Linked DNA regions of Homo sapiens: region 2 is linked to region 1. A link means that fine-mapping ties the variant in region 1 to the expression of a gene that starts in the linked region. Tissue or cell type: whole blood. Region 1 holds a variant in brackets; the other region holds the start of a gene. All regions are shown on one strand. Distances are between the middles of the regions.

Region 1 (5,647 bases):
CTCAGGCTCACTTCTTCTTCTTCTTCTTTTTTTTTTTTTGAGAGACAAGGTCTCACTCTGCTGCCCAGGCTGGAGTGCACTGGTACCATCTCAGCTCACTGCAGCCTCGACCTCCTGGGCTCACTTGAGTGATACTCTCGCCTCAACCTCCCAAGTAGCTGGGACCACAGGCACGCGCCACCAGGCGCAGCTAGTTTTTAAAATGTTCTGTAGTGGCCGGGCGCGGTGGCTCACGCCTGTAATCCCAGCATTTTGGAAGGCCGAGGCGGGTGGATCGCAAGGTCAGGAGATGGAGACCATCCTGGCCAACACAGTGAAACCTCGTCTCTACTAGAAAATACAAAAAATTAGCCAGGCGTTGTGGCACGTGCCTGTAGGCCCAGCTACTCGGGAGCCTGAGGCAGGAGAATGGCTTGAACCCGGGAGGTGGAGCTTGCAGTGAGCCGAGATCGCGCCCCTGCACTCCGGCCTGGGTGACAGAGTGAGACTCCGTCTCAAAAAAAAAAAAAAAAAAAAAATGCTGTTTTGAGACTGCATGTTGCCACGGTGCTCAGACTGGTCTTGACACCTGGGCTCAAGCAACCCTCCCACCTCGGCCTCCCAAAGTGCTGGGATTACAGGCGTGAACCACTGTGCCCAGCCAGGCTCACTTCTAACACAAACATTTATTTTTATTTTTATTTTTTTAAGAGATGGGGGTCTCACTATGGTGCCCAGGCTGGACTTGAACTCCTGGGCTCAGCAGACCTCCCACTCTGACCTCCACAGTAGCATCAGGCATGTCCACAGACAAAGGTAAACCTGGGCTGAGACAATCCCATCCCTCTATCCTTAAGCCCAGAGAGAGGAAGGTGGGTCACTCTGGACCTGTGGGCCCTGGTCCACCCTGGAGGGCAGCCATGAGGTGCCCACTGCACCTCCCCCAGCCTCACTCGCAGGAGAAGGGAAGGGGAGCTGCGTCACCTCCAGGGCAGCTGCACTCACCTGTTCTCGGGTCTGCGGTAATCCAGCCGGCAGGCCCCACTGGTGAGACTGAACAGGGGGTGGAACGCACATTCCATGCTGTACAGCGCTCTCTCTGTGGGCACAGGGACGCCAGGGGAGGGTGTCATGGCCACACACAGCAACCACGGCCCCTCCTCTGATAATGGACAACAAGGAAAGGTCTGGACGGAAGGTCACGAAACTAGAGTCCTGGACACTGAGAGGGCAGACATGCCCCTGGGCACCCTGGATGCCACGCTGCATTTATTTCAACCACAGAACTTGTGAGCTTGACATGGTAACACTTTCAACACCATGAGGCACAACTGCTGCCACGTCCTGACAGAACCAGGCGTCCATGTGTGCAGCACAGATGTGTCCACCTAAGACTGCGTGTGCATGCTGACGTAAGCACTATTATTTACAACAGCCCACACGGCCGTCAACTAATGATGGATACACAACATGTGGTCCGTCCACACAGTGGAGTATTACTAAGCCATAAAAACGAACGACGTTCTGATCGACGCTACAGTGAGGATGAACCTTGAAAACTTCATTGTAAATAAAAGCCAGAGGGCGGGGCGTGGTGGCTCATGCCTGTAATCCCAGCACTTTGGGAGGCTGAGGTGGGTGGATCACAAGGTCAGGAGATCGAGACCATCCTGGCCAACACGGTGAAACCCCATCTCTACTAAAAATACAAAAAATTAGCCAGGTCTGGTGGCGGGCGCCTGTAGTCCCAGCTACTCGGGAGGCTGTGGCATATATTAAACACCAACAAACAAAAACTTTAAATGGGTAAGTTTTGTGCTACGTAGGTTGTATCTCAATAAAGCTGTCATGGATATCCTGGCAACCCCTGTCATCTTACACCATCGCATCTGTCTTGATAGCTTGAGGTGCTCCCACAGCTGAGGGGAATGGGGTGGGGGCTCTGCCTTACCTACGAGGTCTCGAGCCATCTCCTGATCCTCTTGAAAGCGGCAGGCATCGCTGAGCTGCAGGAGTGAGTCAACGTGGTAAGGGCTCGTCTGGAGCAGAACCTACCAGAAGGGAGGACAGCCCTGGAGGAAAGGCACTCAGCAAGGCCCCAGCTCCCAGGCATGCCTTTTTTTCAGACATTTAAAACCAGCGGAGGCTGGGCGCAGTGGCTCACGCCTGTAATCCCACCACTTTGGGAGGCTGAGGCAGGAGGATCACTTGATATCAGGAGTTCAAGACCAGCCTGGCCAACGTGGCAAAACCTGGTCTCTAATAAAAATACAAAAATTAGCCGGGTGTGGTGGCGTGTGCCTGTAATTCCAGTTACTCGGAAGGCTGAGGCAGGCGAATCGCTTGAACCCGGGCCGAGACTGCGCCAATGCACTCTAGCTTAGGCGACAGAGTGAGATTCCGACTCCAAAAACAAAAACAAAAACGGGGGAATTACCGGGTCGACACTCACAACGTCCCCCCAACTCAAAATAGGCTAGTTATTATTGCTAAGCTGAACCAATTATATGACTTAAAGCAAGAACTCAGAACCTGACATGCCCAGGCCAGGGGCCACCTAACTCCCCACTAAGCCCCAAGAAAGAGGAATGGAAAGCAGCAGCCTGCTTTTCCCACAGGGAGATGACGGGGAGCTCTGCGGAGGCTGTCCGGGGTTGCAAGGGGAGCTGTCCGGCGGCTGCGTGAGGGCCGCCCGGGGGC[T/C]GTCTGGGGCTGCGCGGGGGCCGTCCGGGGCTGCAAGGGGAGCTGTCCAGGGGCTGCATGAGGGCTGTCCAGGGTTGCACCGGGGCTGTACGGGGACTGTCCAGGTCCGGGGCTGTCTGGGGCTGCGCGGGGGCCGTCCGGGGCCGTGTGGGGGCCGTCCGGGGGCTGCACGGGGGCCGGGAATCTGAGCTGCTCGCCTGCACTGAGCCGCAGGAGGCAAGGGCAGCAGTGAGAAGCCCCAGAGTCCTGGGCCTGCATCACACGGCACTACTGCGACGGTCCCCAGGAACGGCTGAGAGAGCAGCGCTCCAGCCTCTCCTCTGAGTATGGATGGAGCTCGCTTGGCCTAGAGCCTCCGAACACATCTCCTTCTGGTCACAGGGCCAGACCGCCCTGCAGAGACTGGCACCCTTCCTGTTGGGAAGGGCAGGAGGCAGCATGCCTCCCCCAGCCACCAGGGAAGCAGGCGGCCCAGGGCAGTGGTGGCTACATGGCCCCTGCTCCTGTCAGGGGCTGCAGGGACCACGCACCACGATGTTGTTCGGCTCCATAGACTCCACGGCCACCAGGAACTTGTGCTGAGCCTGCTGGTACTCCTCACTGTGCTCAAACGCAAAGAAGGAGAGGCCTTTTTTTGATTCCAGCAGCCGCATGGACAGACCTGGGAGGGGAGAGTGCTCAGGGAGGGTGTGCCGGGAGCAGGGACGTGGGCAGCTCCGAGCACAGCCCTCACCTTCGTGGTGTTCTGGATGAGGCCTCTGCGATATCGACAAACTTGACCTGAGTGTGTACTCATGGGTGTCACCAGCTCCGGACACCTTCCCAAAACACCCGCCGTCTGGTCTACACCAGGAGACGGCATCCCGTCTGCTTTAGTTTCCTATCAAGACGTGTTTGCCTCCAGAACTCGGATACAGCTCTAGCCCCACTGGCCTGGAGGGAATGTCAGGGACAAGGACACACACAGTCCACAGATCGCCAGATCTGACCACGCCGAGCACTGTCCCCAGACCACGTCTGATTGAGGAGAATGTCCGGGGTGGCTGTGGAAGGACAGGGTTGGAGTGCGGTGGCACAGGTGGCCACAGCGCCAGGCCTCTGAAGCCACAGAGCTTTGTAACGTGTGACCACCCTCTCACTTGGCTCCTCTTGTCTGACTGGGTGTATGGGACCCAGTTTCTTCTGATAAACCTGGAAAGCTCAGCCTCCCAGGACCTCCATGGACTAGGTCCCCTGTAGTGATACCTTCTTGATGGCCCTGCCCAAGGCCCCAGTCCTGCAGGAATACATGGCCATGGAACCCCTGTCTGCAGTGAGCAGGGGTTCCTGCCAGGAAGGGAAGGGGCCGTGAGCAGCGGGGTTCACCTTCTGACAGCACAGGCCTCGCTCCTAGATGTGTCCTTACAGAATGTATGCAGGCAATCTCCGGCACCCCCACAGACACAGGCGCAGGAGAAGCGGCCGTGGGAGCCATGGCAGCGCTGACAGCAGCAGCCATGCCGATCACCAAGGGCACCACACAGCTCCCTTCCCACAAGCTGTCCTTGCCCTGGCCCCTGAGGGCCCCCACAGTTCAGCCACTGCAGAGTGGAGGCCAGTGTGGAAGGCCTCCTGACACTTCCCCACACCACACAACCAAGCACCCAACACTCCATGCCTGTCTTCACTGTTGCAATTCATCTTAAAATCACTTATTAGTTTGCAATAATATACAAAATATTGCAGTTTAAAATGAACTCGATTGCTTCCATAAGGGAAAGGTCGATGGCAGAATGGTAGGAAGAACCTGCGTTAAAAGACAGTCACACAAAGACTGTGCCTGGGAGGCTCCGTGTTGAGGTACTGGGCCAGGCCTCCAGCACTCAGGCCCTCAGTGTGGCAACAAACAGTCACACACTGCACACTCCTGGAGCGCTCCTGGAGCAAAGAGTCTCGGCTCAAGAGGCACTGACGCCCCTGGTGCCCAGCGCAGGCCAGTGCACAGAACACACCCCCCCGCCGCCCTCCACCCCCAGCAGCCTCTGCAGACCCTCACCTGGTTTGCTGTACCGGGGCCAGTGCACAGACAACGCCCCCCAACCCTCCATCCCCAGCAGCATCTGCAGACCCTCACCTGGTTTGCTGTAGCGGGGCCAGGTGCTTTTAGGGGTGGTCAGCCATGTGCACTTGGGGTACACACGTTGTCTCTGCCGTGGCCTGGGGAGAACGGGACACAGGTACAGCTTTACTTCCTGTGGCGTGTGGGGACCAAGGCTTGGCTGCCTGATCCCTGCACGGGCTGTGGAAGCAAAACTGAGGGGCAGAGAAGGCATGTGGGGCAGGGTGGGGACGCATTAAGGACAGGATGCAAACAAGCGTCAGCAACTGCTGTGGGACGGGTGCAGCAGGGAGGGCCCCATAGAGAGAAAGAAACAATTCTGGCTGGGCACGGGGGCTCACACCTGTAATCCCAGCACTTTGAGAGGCCAAGATGGGAGAATTTCTTGAACCCAGGAGTTCGAGACTGGCCTGGGCAAGACAGCAAAACCCCATTTCTACAAAGGGTTTTAAAAATTAGCCTGGCGTGATGGCCTGCACCTGTGATCCCAGCACTCCAGCCTGGACGACAGAGCAAGGCCCTGTCTCAAGAGGAAAATAAAAAAAGAAAACGAAAAGAAAGAGAACAACGTACTAATATCCACATGCCCATCACTCAACTTAAGAAACCAACCATCTCTGAGGTAACAGCAGCTCCATGCCTTTTCCATGCTGCCCCACCTGCCCAGCTCAGATACCAGCTGACCAGTGCTTAGAGTGGGCCTGACCCCTGTGGCAGAGACCCCCAAATAACAGAGGTCAGGGCACTCTGCCTGAGCACACAGGCACCAGACAGGTGGGGCGTGGCAGCCGCGGCAGCACAGACAGCAGCAGCCATGCCCACGGTCACCATCAGCACGGTGCAGCTCCCTTCCCACGGGGCCATCCCTGC
Region 2 (5,316 bases), 20 kb after region 1:
CCAGCACTTTGGGAGGCCAAGGCGGAAGGATCTCTTGAGCCCAGGAGTTTAAGACCAACCTAGGCAACATAAAGAGATCTTGTCTCTAAATAAATAAAATTTTTTAAAAAGAGAAACACCATGTCTCTCACCAATGCATTCACATTCATAACCATTTAGTCGTAACTGGCTGTTTACTGTCTCCCATACTTCTGTTTATTAAGAGCTATTTAACAGAATGCCAATAAACATTTTGATTATATTATTTCCAAATATGAGTTTTAAGAGCAAAAAAGTATGGAATGCTTAAATTAAGACTGATGTGTGCCACTGGATAAAATTCTCTGAAATTCCTAAGAACACAGCACGATAAGCAGTCATTCATCCATGGAGGCTGTTAGTGTTACTGACACTCAAACTCACTCCAGAAAGTCCACAAGGGTTTGTGTGGTTTCTGACCTTACAGACTCTTACTCTGTCAACTCATGAACCACACTTTTTCCAAATTCCCACCAACACAAATATAAATACCAAAAAGATTAAATATTTAAATGGGAAAAAAAAAGCATTAAAAGAACAAGCTGAGCATGGTAGGGTATGCTGTAGTCCCAGCTGCTCAGGAGGCTGAGGCAGGAGGATAACCTGAACCCAGGAGTTCAAGACCAGCAACCAGCCTGGGCAACACCGTGAGACCCTGTCTGTAACCAAAAAAAAAAAAAAAAAAAAAAAAAAAAGCCAGGCGCAGTGGCTCACGCCTGTAATCCCAGCACTTTGGGAGGCCGAGGCAGGCGGATCACGAGGTCAGGAGATCGAGACCATCCTGGCTAACATGGTGAAACCCCATCTCTACTAAAAATACAAAAAATTAGCCAGGCGTGGTGGCGGGCGCCTGTGTTCCCAGCTACTTGGGAGGCTGAGGCAGGAGAATGGCGTGAACCCAGGAGGCGGAGCTTGCAGTGAGCCGAGATCATGCCACTGCACTCCAGCCTGGGCGACAGAGCGAGACTCCATCTCAAAAAAAAAAAAAAAAAAAAAAAAAAACTCACGTCAGGGAATATCTATGTGAAGACACTCTAGAGAGATGGATGTGTAACAATGAGAAAAGTGGCTCCAGTATCTTTCAGCACGCAGAAATTAAAGAAGTTAAAGAACAAACACAAACCGAGAAAATACGTTAGAGACAATCGATAGCAAGCTTCCACGAGCAAAAAGACTGTCCAAACCCCCTATAAAAAGGCAAAGATATAAACAGGTTGTCACAAAGAGAAATATAAATGGTCAACGAATACATAGCTAGGTGCTGCATTTCACTACCAAAGAAGTGTAAAATAAAATAATGTGATATCATTTTTCACAAATTACATTGACAAAAATTTAAAAAGACTTACGGGGCCAAGCACAGTGGCTCATGCCTCTAATGCCAACACTCTGAGAGGCCAAGGTGAGAGGACTATTTGAGCCCAGGAGTTCAAGGTTGCAGTGAGCTAGGATTGTGCCAATGCACTCCAGCCTGGGCAACAGAGCAAGATTCCATCTCAAAACAAAAAGCTTTCAGTAACTGCTGTGAATCTAGCAAATTACTGAACCTTGACGGGGGTCTTGGGGACCACTAAAGGTGGACTTGATGCGAGAAGGGCAGTCAACCAAGCATGGTGACTCACGCCTGTAGTCCCAGCACTTTGTGAGGCTGAGGTGGACAGATTGTTTGAGCGCAGAAGTTCTAGACCAGCCTGGGCAACAAGGCGAAAACTCTTCTCTACAAAAAAGAAAAAAAAAAAAAATTAGCCGGGCGTGGTGACATCCACCTGTAGTCCTAGATACTCAGGAGGCTGAGGTGGGAGGATCGCAGAGCCCGCAGAGGCAGAGTTACAGACGGAGGCCAGGGCTTAGGAGAAAACGTCACAGGACCGCATGAGCAAACCATACAGTCAAACTGTTACTTCCCTGTGCCAGAAACGAGCTGCCGGAGATGCAGCAAAGAGTAAGACTAATCCGCTGGGTTAGGCTGATGGGGATGCGCGAAGAGCAAGGCCCTGGGTTAGGCAGAGTTGTTGTGAGGATTAAAGCAGAATGCTCGCAGAGGCCTGGCAAGTCCTCAACCCTGGAACCGAGAGAAGGCCCCTCTAGACTCGAGAAAGGGAAGCCCCACCCGACTCCTGCCCCTACGCCGTGGCCCCACCCCCACGGTGGCCCCAGGCCTCATTTAACCCCGCCCACGCCATCGCCTCGCCACCCCCCCGTCTTTAGCCACGCCCTTTAGCGTCACGGCCCCACGACAGCCACGTGGCCGCAGGCCCATTTAATCCCGCCCACGTCGTGGCCCGGCCCCGCGGACGTTGGCCACGCCCTTGGCATCAAGGCCCCGCACCCTCCACAACCCGGACCCCGCTTAACCCCGCCCATTCGGTCGCCCCGCCCCGACAGCACGGCCCCGCCCCATCCCTTAGCCCCGCCCACCTCACCGGGGTTAGAACCCAGTCTAACTCCGCGGCCCGCCGTCTTCACCCCACGCCACCGCCCACCCGCGTCGCCCTGGCCCCGACGCACGGCCCCGCCCTCCCCACTGCGGCTGGGACCCACGTCACCCTTCCCACCCCTGGCATCACAACCCCGCTCCCCGACCCGGCTGGACGCTCGCCCCGCCCCACAACGTCAAGGGCCACCCCACCCCCACCCGGGCCGCCGCGCTCCTCACCAGCTCGAAGCGGTTGTTGACTCGGACGCCCTCCTTCCCTGCGCCCCCGGGACGCCGGACACCAAGCTCCCGCTTGGGCCCTTCTTCTTCCGCGTCATCGTCATCACGGAGATCGAAATGCAAGGCGCCGGGCCCGAGGGGCTCCTGGCCGCGCTGTTCCCCCCTCAGCCTCCGGAGGGCCCGGCGCGACATAGGACCGAACGACCACGACGTCTGGAGAGAGGGAGAAGGAAGCGCAGAAAACTCGGCTGTCGGCGCGCCTGCGCACTCTTCGCGCGGGGTCGGGGGCGGGGGAGCTGGCTGCGCGCCTGCGCACTCTTGGCGCGAGGGGTGGGGGCAGGACCTGGCTGCGGCGCCTGCGCGTCGCGGCTCTCCGGAACTTTCCCGCTTCAGCGGCGGCGTCTGGGCGGGCTCCGGGGGGTCCGGGCCAGGTCTCTGGAGAGCTGGGTGTCTGCGCGCCGTGCGCACCGGGCATGGAGAGGTGCCCCGCGGGGATGACGGGCTTCGATTCGGGGTAACGGGCGCGCAGCCGGCGACAGTCGGCCCTGCCCGGCCTTGCCCATCCATGTGGCCCGGAACCCGCAGCCGCGTTCTGCCCGCCGGGGCCTGTCCCCGCACCGTGCCTGCAGCATTTCAGCTGCGTCCCGGACGTTGCTAGTTGGTCCTTTTCGTGTCAGGGTGTCATTCGAGTGATCTAGCCGTCGATGCCCGCCTCTGCCCTGGAGCCGCCGCCCCTCGAGCAGCATTGAGTGACGCGGCCCTTACTGCCCGCCCGAGGCCTCTTTAGGGACAGTGGTTCTGACAGTTCTAGGACAGGCCGCCCGCGTTTGTCACGATCTAAGGGCCGGGCGCGGTGCTCACGCTTGTAATCCCAGCACTTTGGGAGGCCAAGGTGGGCGAATCACCTGAGGTCGGGAATTCGAGACCAGGTTGGGCAACACGGTGAAACTCCCTCTACTAAAAATACAAAAATTAGCTGGGCGTGGCTGCGCACGCCTGTAATCCCAGCTACTCGGGAGGCTGAGGCTGCAGTGAGCCGAGATCGCGCCACTGCACTCCAGCCTGGGCGACAGAGCCAGACCCTGTCTCAAAAAAATGAAAAAAATAAAGTAGATGAGGCTGAGACAGTGCTGGGTTCAGTGGGCGGAGGGCACAGCTTCCTGTGCCTGGGGTTGGGGACATGGGGACAGGAGGGCATAGAGAAGACAGGTGCCAGCAGCCTCCTGCCCGACTTACTGCGGCTTCATGAGCACAAGCAGCAGCCCTGGTGAGCCGGCCTGGCCCCTCCCAGGATGGGTTAGGGTTTTATTTTATTTTGTGAGATGAGGTCTTGCTCTGTTGCCCAGGCTGGAGTGCAGTGGCGCAATCTCGGCTCACTGCAACCTCCATCTCCCAGGCTCAAGCACTTCTCCTGTCTCAGCCTCCCGAGTAGCTGGGACTACAGGCATGTGCCACCATGCCCGGCTAATTTTTGTACTCAGTAGAGATGGGGTTTCACCATGTTGGCCAGGCTGGTCTCGAACTCCTGACCTCAAGTGATCTGCCCACCTCACCCTCCAAAAGTGCTGGGATTACAGGTGTGAGCCACTGCACCTGCCGTGGTTTAGGGTTTTAACGTGGGCTTTCATTTCCAAGTGTTCCTGTATGAATTACAACCCAGTCTCCCCATGATAGGGAGTGTGAGTCCCCGTAGAACCAGAACAACCGTCGTCCTTACCAAGCACTACACATTAGCTTATTGCTGGCTGTGTGACCGGAGGAGTTCCCTGACCCTCTCTGTGCCTGTTTTCTTATTTTTAAACAGGAATAAAAATACAGGCCAGAGAGTCCGTGAAATGCTTACACGCATGCTAGAAGCTGGCTGTTTTTACTGGGGGCTCTAATTTTGTGTGTTTGGATTTCCTGGACCCCAGCTGACAGGAGTATTTTCTCCCGCAGGCCCATCAGTTACAAGTCCTGTCCCTTCTGACCTCCAGGCCCCACGGCTAGCATTACAGCCTGGAGTCAAAGTTCTGGGTGAGCTGTGTATCTTTGGCCAAATTCTTTGACCTCGTTGAGCCTCAGTTCCCTCATCTGTAAGGTAAGATGACGGCAGAACGTCACGGAGGAGCAGGGCAGGGCCCCGTTAACAGGCTGAGCCGGGCGCAGGTGAGCAGACAGCACTCGGCACAGGGCCTGTCTAGAGCCTGCAGTCACACCTCCTGCCCCTGTGGATCCTCTCCCTGGAGAACGAGAATACGGATCTGGGAAATGAGACCAAAGTACCCCCCAGGCCAGCAGGTGTGGCCAGAGGAGCTGATGGGCAGTAGTCTGTGCCGTCCGCATGCAGCCCTGACCATGGTGGCCAGGACCACGAAGCTGGTAGAGGCAGCCAGGGCTGCGTGGACAGAGCAGGCCTGGAGCCCTTGCCTGGTGGGCACCTGACTCTAAGCCAGGAGGCCTTTCCTCGTCCTGGAAGGCAGGTGGCCCCTCAAGCCCAGCTTCAACCTTGGGAGAACATGCCATGCTGGGTGAATCCTCAGCGCACATCCCAGACAGAAGACTGTGAGACCTCCTTTATTAGGCCAAGAGTGGCCATGTGCACAGATTTACAGAGCTGCTCCTCCCTGTGCCAGGACCGCCCAGCATCTTCAGGAGCCTCT

What was found. PIP is the estimated chance that this variant, and not a neighbour inherited with it, causes the effect.
Region 2: TCF25 starts here. The variant in region 1 is fine-mapped to the expression of TCF25 in whole blood (INTERVAL, PIP above 0.99). The same link has a PIP of 0.9 or more in monocytes after LPS.

The regions. Positions count from the first base shown.
Region 1 is chr16:89,891,421-89,897,067 of GRCh38, reverse strand. TCF25 (TCF25 ribosome quality control complex subunit) reads right to left here. Exons shown (of 18, transcript NM_014972.3): 6 at 4,793-4,875; 7 at 3,210-3,340; 8 at 1,931-2,030; 9 at 985-1,078. Among named protein-coding and RNA genes, the nearest start is that of TCF25, 21 kb to the right of the region's middle. The variant T/C (reference allele first, on the strand shown) is at 2,680.
Region 2 is chr16:89,871,218-89,876,533 of GRCh38, reverse strand. It overlaps TCF25 (TCF25 ribosome quality control complex subunit), which reads right to left and starts at 2,942. Exons shown (of 18, transcript NM_014972.3): 1 at 2,675-2,942. The coding sequence starts at 2,866. It overlaps SPIRE2 (spire type actin nucleation factor 2), which reads right to left. Exons shown (of 15, transcript NM_032451.2): 15 at 5,215-5,316. It overlaps LOC112268179 (a long non-coding RNA gene), which reads left to right and starts at 3,046. Exons shown (of 2, transcript XR_002957933.2): 1 at 3,046-3,566; 2 at 4,613-5,316. RefSeq lists silencers at 2,158-2,627, 3,098-3,217 and enhancers at 3,298-3,457, 3,228-4,184.